3 separate regions of the Homo sapiens genome follow, and all the other regions are linked to region 2. Evidence: fine-mapped expression QTL. A gene starts in region 2. Each other region holds a variant in brackets. All regions are shown on one strand. Distances are from middle to middle.

Region 1 (2,763 bases), 990 kb after region 2:
ATTCACTGTATCCTTTTCTCACGTTAGCACGGATGTCCATGTTTTCAATTCCCTGGAATCTTTATTTAAAGTGTTTATTTATTTCCCTCTCTTCACAATGGAAAAGAGGATGGAGTGGGGGGAGTATGTGAAGTTCACTGGAAGGTCTTAGCAGATGGGTGCCACCTGGGCCTTTAAGTGAAACTTGCTCTTCAGTCACTCTGGGATCTCTTAGTGCAGGCACCAAGCCCTAAAAACTCCAGAAGCCTCTCTTTCCACATCATTAAAATGGGAGGCTGGGGGCAGAATTATTTTGGTGAGGTTACCAGCACGGTAAACGATTAAGGATTAAACGATTGAGGATTAAACGATGCAATATGGAAACTCTCCCAGCCTGATGCAATCCTGAAAATATTTCTTTTCTTTTTCTTTTCCTTTTTTTTTTTTTTTTTTTTTTTTTTTTTGAGATGGAGTCTTGCTCTGTCAACCAGGCTGGAGTGCAGTGGCGTGATCTCAGCTCACTGCAACCTCTACCTCCCAGGTTCAAGCAATTCTCCTGCCTCAGCCTCCCGAGTAGCTGGGATTACAAGCATGCGCCACCACGCCCTGCTAATTTTTTTGTATTTTTAGTAGAGACGGAGTTTCACCATATTGGCCAGGGTGGTCTCGAACTCCTGACCTTGTGATCTGCCCACCTCAGCCTCCCAAAGTGCTGGGATTGTAGGCGTGAGCCACTGCGCCCAGCCTCTCCCTTGCTTTTTGAGGTCAGAAAGTAAGAGATAACTGAGCTGGGCTTTTAATGCTGCCTTTGTTTGTTTGTTTGTTTGTTTGTTTGTTTTGCCATTTAGTGATAATATCCTTCAGTTTCCCTTTCCTGCACTTAGCTTTAAAAATCCCAGCCTGTCACACCAGGGCTGGGGGTTGTGGGGAGCAGACAAACAATCAAACAAGTTCAATCTCTTAAACCAAATTATAAAATGAGAAAGATCACAGATGTGCGGGAGGAAAGGGTTTGATGTAGCTCAGTCATTCCTCTCCTTCCACTTCTGATGACTAATTTAGAAGTTACGCATAACATCTCACTGCCCCTTTCACAAGAAATCATGATATCTATTTTATCTAAATCTTGGTTCTGGCTAAAGCAGTTCTTCCGCTAAGCAACTAGTTTGTTTTCATTTAAATGAAACTGAAGAATCTTATAGCTGATCCTGTTTCCCAGCACTGGTGTAGTGAAATAGATTTTAAAAACAGACAGATCTGGAACCCAGAGCAGCCTCTTTCTTCATCCACTGAAAAATTTTAAAAACAACTTGATTGAGGTGTAATTTACCTATCATAAAATTCACCCATTCTAAGTGAATCATACAATTCAGTTATCGTTAGTAAATGTACAGAGTTGTATAAACATCATCAGAATCCAAGTTTAGAACATTTCTGTTTTTTCCAAAAGATCCCTTCCTGTCCCCC[C/A]CTCCACTACCAGGCAACCACTAATCTATTCTCTGTCTCTATAAATTTGCCAATTCTGGACGTTTCATATAAATGGAATCATTCAATGTGTTGCCTTTTGTGTCTGGCTTCATTCACCTAGCATGATGTTTTTCCAGTTCACCCATGGTGTAGCTTGGAACAGTACTGTGTTTCTTTTTATTGACAAATGGACCACATTTTAATCAAAATCCATTCACCAGTTGATGAACATTTGGTTTTTTTCCACTTTTTGGTGGTTATGAATAATGCTATGAGTATCTGCATACAAGTTTTTCTGTGGTCACACGATTAGTTCTCTTGGGTATATATCTAGGTGTGGAATCACTGAGTCATATGGTAACTATGTTTAACCATTTGAAGAACTATCAGATTGCTTTTCACAGTAGCTGCACCATTTGACATTTCCACCAGCAGTGTTTCAGAGTTCTTCTTTCTCCACATCTTCACCAACACTTGTTATTGTCCTTCTTTTTAAATTATAGTCATCCTAGTCCATGTGAAGTGGTATCTCACTGTGGTTTTGATTTTCATTTCCCTAATGACTAATGATGTTGAACATCCTTTCATGTGCTTTTGAGCCATTCCTCTATCTTATTTGGTGAAATGTCTATATAAATCCTTTGCCTATTTATAAATTGGGTTATTTATCTTCTTATGATTGAGTTGGAAGTGTTCTTTGTGTATTTTGGATACATCAGATATATGATATATCAGATATATGACCTATAAATATTTTCTTCCATTCCATAGCTTTTCATTTTCTTAGTGGTACCTCTTGAAACCCAAAAGTTTCTCATCTTGATGAAGTCCAATTTAGCAGTTTTTAAAAATTCCTTATGCCTTTGGTGCTGTGTCTCAGAAATCTTTGCCTAACTCAAGGTCACAAAAATTTAGCTCATACATTTAGGACTATCATCAATTATGAGTAATTTTTGTGTATGATATAAGGGAAAGGTCTAAATTCATCCTTCTGCTGGTAGATCTCGGTTGTTCCAGCATATGAATTATTGCATTTTGTCTGCTGCCTTCTTCTATCCCCTCCTCTATTTTAGCATTCCCAGAGGTGAGCAACACTCCTCCTCTTGCCCCCAGTGGCAGCCCCCCACCCCCACTTAACCCCACTTATAAAATCTGGAGATTTTGCATGAAATCTTTTAGTTTTTAAATGATGTCAATTATTCAATTGTTTCATTTGTCTTCTTGATACATCAGATATATGATATATCAGATATGTGAGACCAACAGACTGTCTTGATGGCACAACTCCAATTCCAGTGTTCCAGAAGAGAGAACTGG
Region 2 (2,763 bases):
CTCCCGAGTAGCTGGGACTACAGGCGCCTGCCACCACGCCTGGCTAATTTTTGTATTTTTAGTAGAGGCGGGGTTTCACCGTATTAGCCAGGATGGTCTCGATCTCCTGACCTCGTGATCTGCCCGCCTTGGCCTCCCAAAGTGCTGGGATCACAGGCGTGAGCCACCACACCTGGCCTTACATGTACTTTTTTAATGGTTGAGGTGGAGCCATCTTTCTTATATTTAGGAGCGTTTCATGATTTGTTTTTGTTCATTGCTTCCTTTGCCTTTTTTTTTTTTTTTCCCTGAGACAGGGGTCTCACTTTGTCTCCCTGGCTGGAGTGCAGTGGCAGTAATCTTGGCTCACTGGACCCTCGACTTCCCAGGCTCAAGGGATCCTCCCACCTCAGCCTCCTGAGTAGCTGGGACTACAGGCGCCCACCACCACACCAGGCTAATTTTTGTGTTTCACTAGAGACAGGATTTCACCATGTTGCCCACGCTGGTCTCGAACTCTTTGCCTCAAGAGATCCACCCACCTCGGCCTCCCAAAGTGCTGGGATTACAGACGTGTGCCACTGGACCCAGCCTCCTTTGCCAGTCTTAATACTAAGTTATTTTATTATTTTGGGAGAATTGCTACATCGAATATCAGCCCTTTGTCATATGTTTCGAGTATTTTTCTGAATTTGTACCTTGTCTTTGATTTTTTTTCTTTTTTGAGACAGGGTCTTGCTCTGTCCTCCAGGCTGGAGTGCAGTGGCGGGATCACAGCTCACTGCAGCCTCGACCTCCCGGCCTCAAGTGATCCTCCCACCTCAGCCTGAGTAGCTGGCATCACGCCCAGCTAATTTTATTTTTTGTAGAGATGGGGGTCGCACCATGCTGGCCAGGCTGGTCTCTAACTCCCGAGCTCAAGCCATCCTCCCGCCTCGGTCTTCCAAAGTGCTGAGATTGCAGGCGTGAGACACCGTGCCCAGCCGTCTTTAATATTTTTCACCAGGCGGATAGTTCACATTTTTGTGTAGTCTTTTTTTTTTTTTTTTTGGTGCCTTCTAATTCTAATTCTTCCCATTTCTGGGTGTGTACTTAGTCTCTCTGAGCCACAGTTTTCTGCTCTATAAAGTGGGGTGATAATGCTCAGTACACGGTTTGCTTTGGCTCGATGAGAAATCCAGGTCTGAAAGCTTCAGGTACAGCGGCCGGCGCTGAGGAAAACAGCGTTAAGTGAGGCGCGTCAGCGGACACCACCTGCCTGCACATCTGGCTGGCCTCAACTTCCCGCTGTTCGAGCCCACGTGAGTGGCTCCGCCCCATCTGGCTTCTGACCAATGGACGAGCTTCCTAAGGCGTACCGTCCCGACTCCAAGGCGCCTGGCTTTGAGGCGGGCTGCGTCTTGCTCGGAGTCCCGCCCCTTGCCGGGTCGAGCAATGGGCGCCTTCCGTTTGGCGCAGGCCCCGCCCCTGTCGCTCTCCGGCCTGCGGGCCGCAGGGCTCGTTCCGGAGGGCGGGCGCCACGGAGGCCGGAGTGGTCGCAGTTCGGGCGGAGGCCGGGCCAGGCGGGGCTGTAGGGCTGGGGCAGGCGGCGGGCTGCCCGGCGGGACAGCTGCGGCAGCCGGCGGGGGGCGTCCTGAGTTGGCGGTCGAGGGCGCTGCCAGCTCCCGAGGGGCCGCTCGGGCCCCTTCCGGCCCGGGTCTGGTTGGGCCGCAGGAGCAGGGCGGGCTGCGGCGCCCGGGTCTGGCCCTGGCCTACGGGCTAAGCGCCCGGCCCCGGGGCCGCGGATCCGGCAGCCATGTGTGGATCTTGAAGCGCCATGTGGTCTTCTGAAGCGCTTGACAGTTCTAAAGGGCTTTATATTGCAAACTGATCAAAGCGCTTCGTAGCCCCGGAAGCGCTTAGGCATCTCCGAAGTAGCGCTGGGCAAAGTGAAGGCTTCCTGATCTCAGAAGCACGTTGTGGGCTTGGAAACCGACGGCAGCCTTTAGTCAATTTTGGATCGCTTTGACTTCTCCAACACGGTTTGGCATCTCTGAAACCTTGAGAACTGTGATGGGCAGTGGAAAGAAGAGGGAAAGGTCAGTGAGGCTAGCCCCTGGCTCTGCCCTTATGTCTTGCCGTCCTCCTGGGCCCGGGGTGGCGGGAATCTGAGGTGGGGTCGCCAGGAAGGGTGGTGTTGGAATCCAGGCCCCCTGTACCTTGCAGGTGCCCATGGCGTCCGAGCGGGGCAAGGTCAAGCACAACTGGAGCAGCACGTCGGAAGGGTGTCCCCGCAAGCGCAGCTGCCTCCGGGAGCCCTGTGATGTGGCCCCCTCCAGCCGGCCAGCTCAGAGGTCTGCGTCGCGTTCTGGAGGGCCCAGCAGCCCCAAGCGCCTGAAAGCCCAGAAGGAGGACGATGTGGCTTGCTCGCGGAGGTTATCCTGGGGCTCATCCCGCCGCAGAAATAACTCCTCCTCCTCCTTCTCCCCACATTTCTTGGGCCCTGGTGTGGGCGGGGCCGCCTCCAAAGGCTGCCTGATTCGGAACACTCGGGGGTTCCTGTCTTCAGGGGGATCCCCTCTGCGTCCTGCCAACGCCTCTTTGGAAGAAATGGCTTCTCTAGAGGAGGAAGCCTGCAGCCTTAAGGTAGGTGGCTGCCACGCTTTGCAATCGGTGAAGCCCCTTCCACATGGCTTGAGAGGTTGGGGATGGGAATTTTGGTGGAAGGAGACTACAAAACATTACATCCTTGAAGGTCTGGAAGGTCTTTCTAGAAGTCCACTCCCCCCAAACTCGAAGACCTAG
Region 3 (2,763 bases), 940 kb after region 2:
GAGGACTAAACTGCTTCTCACTGATGAAAACATCCTTCGAGTTCTGGCTCATAAGTCACCTCCTCTGGGAAGCCTTCCCTGAATTTTCAAAGTAGTAAGTCACTCCCCTGACCTCCCACAGCACTTTGTCTACCCATTAAATGTGGCACTGCAGGGTAATTATTTATTTGGTCCTTTTGAGCAAGAACTGTGTCTCACCTGCCTCTGTATACCCAGCACTCTCAGTGTTGAGGATGAAGTTGGCGCTCCATGAATGCTTATTGAGCAACTAGAGGACTAAACAGACACTCCACTTTGGCCCCTGTCAAGATTGCCTTGTGGTCTGGCCTTTAGACCAAGAAGACCTGAGTTGTAACTTTGCCACTTTCTCGGGTGAGCTGTGTCTGAGTCTTCATTTGCCTATCTGGAAAATGGGGATAATGACAGTCCCTCCCTCCTGGGGGAGCTCCGATGACACAGGCCAATAGTGGTGATGGTGTTTGTAAACCCTGCGGTGTCGTGTTGGTGCACATGTGTGGAGGAGGTGGGGTGGGGCCTGTTATTCCTGTCCTGGAATGTTGGCACTCAGACGTTGTTTACGGTAACTTCTGGGCTCTGTGCCTGACTTCCCAGGGCTCCGGCACTTGCTGGGGTAGATGGCAGTTCCACGTATGAGTATGTGATGCCTCCCAGCAATGGCATCACCAGATTTGTTAGGTGTTCTGTGGAAGCCCCGACCTCCAGCCCCCTCCAACCCCCTTCCAGATTTCCTGCTCTGCCGAGAATTCCCTTGCTCCTCCTGCCCACCTTGCAGAGCCTCCAGTGGGTTCCTGGGCCCCTCCCAAGCAAGATCGAGCCCTGTTTTAAGCCCTTTCAATGCTGGGCTCTGAGTCAGGTTTGGCATCCGGACAACTCCACCTTTTCCTGTTTCTAGGGACCTACCTGTAGGAGTTCTATACCTCTGGGATGTGGGCAGCCTGACCTCTAGATGTATTGAGCAGCTGTCATAAAGCTATGCCGCTTGCTCCCTGCTAAATTGCAGCCAAAGTGATGGGCATTATCTGCTTCAGAACAGGAGAGAGCTGTTCTGCCATCATGCCAGTGCCCTTATTCATCATCACCACAGCTTTTACCATTGCACCTTTGCCCAGTATCAGATGAGTGGATCCTTGCAGCATGGCATAGATATCATTATTATTATAACCATTTTGCAGAAGTGAAAACTGAGGCCCCAAGAGGTGAGCTAACTAACCCAAGAGTAATCTCCCCTTGAGCCACTCACTGTTGCATTTACTCACTGAATAAATGAAGAGGAAGGAAGAGCTGACTTTAATGCCTGGAGCTTCTCCCTGCCTTGGAGGTCGGGATCTGAGACCACTCTGATTCCTCTCACAGGGCTAAGGGACCATCATCACATAGTTATGGGTGTTCATGTAGCACAGGCTGGGGGACCTAATTTCTAGTCTGTTTTGTGCCACAGGTTGTTTTGGGCTAACACTTTTAGGTCTGAGAGTGCCTGGATCTGCTCTAGGTAATCAGGCAGACAGGCAGCACAGAAGACAGTTCAGAAACAGAC[C/T]CAAATGCAGATAGGAATTTAGTATGTATGAAAGGTGGCATTACAAATCACTGGAGAAAAGATAGATTATTCAATAAATGGGCTTGGAGCAATTGAAGAACCACCTGGAAAATATTAAGTTGGATTGCAGCACACTCCTTTCTCCAGAATTAATTCCAGATGGATCCAAAATTTAAATTAAAAAAGATAAAAGTATGCAAGTACTGGAAGGTATGACGTTCTTAAAATAATCTCAGGGTTATACAATTCCAGACCTTCCCTTTCCCAAGCCTCAGAGGAGGCTGGGGCCAGAGGGGGTCCTCTGGCCTGGAATAACCCAACTTCAGGATCGTAAGTGTGAGCCCTACTTTCCACTACTGACAAAGATATCTTTTTCTCTGCTGAACAGAATTACTAATACTTAAGCAAAGAGTTTCAGTCTCCTGTGACACAAACACAGATATTTGTTAAAAGGGTATAGGAGGCTCCTAAGAAACTGGGATGGGCCATTTGGAAAGTCAGCTGAAAATCTGTCCGTAATTTTTTTTTCTTTTAACTACAAAGGTTATATAATAGAATTACAAAACATTTTGAAGAAGAGAAAAATAATATCTAAAAATATAATAATATATAAAAATAATAAAACACATGACCTTGCACAGACCACTCAACGTTACTGAGCCCATTCTGTAAAATGGGGGCAAAACCTACCCTGCTCACCCAGAGGGTTTCTGGGAAGGTCAGAAGAGATAACTGATGCAAATATACTTAGTTTCTAAGTCCTGCACATGCTGTAGCAAAGTCAGGTATGCATTATTTCATATTTGGCAAACTTATGCATGCAGGAACAGGAATGAGGACATTAAGTCTAATGATACTCCTGTCTTCAGGAAGCATCAATCCTCAATCCCAACCCTCAATCCCAACTCCTACGATGATTTGTATTTTTGTGTTGTTGTAAACATGTAAACGTGGTGTACATTCTGTTTTCTGTCCTGCTCTTCTTTCTTAAGGTGTTTTTCCACGTTGCTGAAGTCTCTGTAGCCTCCAGTTGTAATGGTTGCATAAGGTTACATCAACTGCTTTTGCCTCATTGACTTAACATTTCCCAATTGCTAAACATTTCAATTTCATCTCATTTTTCCTGTTATTAAAATGTGTGATGCAAAGCTTTCCTGTGTATAACATAGAAAATAATTCTTTAAGGGGATGTTGTTCAAGCCAAGTCA

The links.
Region 1: its variant is fine-mapped to the expression of TATDN2 in aorta (GTEx, PIP 0.92).
Region 3: its variant is fine-mapped to the expression of TATDN2 in sun-exposed skin (GTEx, PIP 0.99).

Annotation. Positions count from the first base shown.
Region 1 is chr3:11,237,251-11,240,013 of GRCh38, forward strand. The region is part of intron 1 of HRH1 (histamine receptor H1); the gene reads left to right. Among named protein-coding and RNA genes, the nearest start is that of ATG7, 34 kb to the right of the region's middle. The variant C/A (reference allele first, on the strand shown) is at 1,447.
Region 2 is chr3:10,247,011-10,249,773 of GRCh38, forward strand. TATDN2 (TatD DNase domain containing 2) reads left to right here and starts at 1,449. Exons shown (of 8, transcript NM_014760.4): 1 at 1,449-2,057; 2 at 2,185-2,604. The coding sequence starts at 2,191. RefSeq lists a silencer at 1,335-1,764 and an enhancer at 2,017-2,763.
Region 3 is chr3:11,185,276-11,188,038 of GRCh38, forward strand. The region is part of intron 1 of HRH1 (histamine receptor H1); the gene reads left to right. Among named protein-coding and RNA genes, the nearest start is that of HRH1, 32 kb to the left of the region's middle. The variant C/T (reference allele first, on the strand shown) is at 1,556.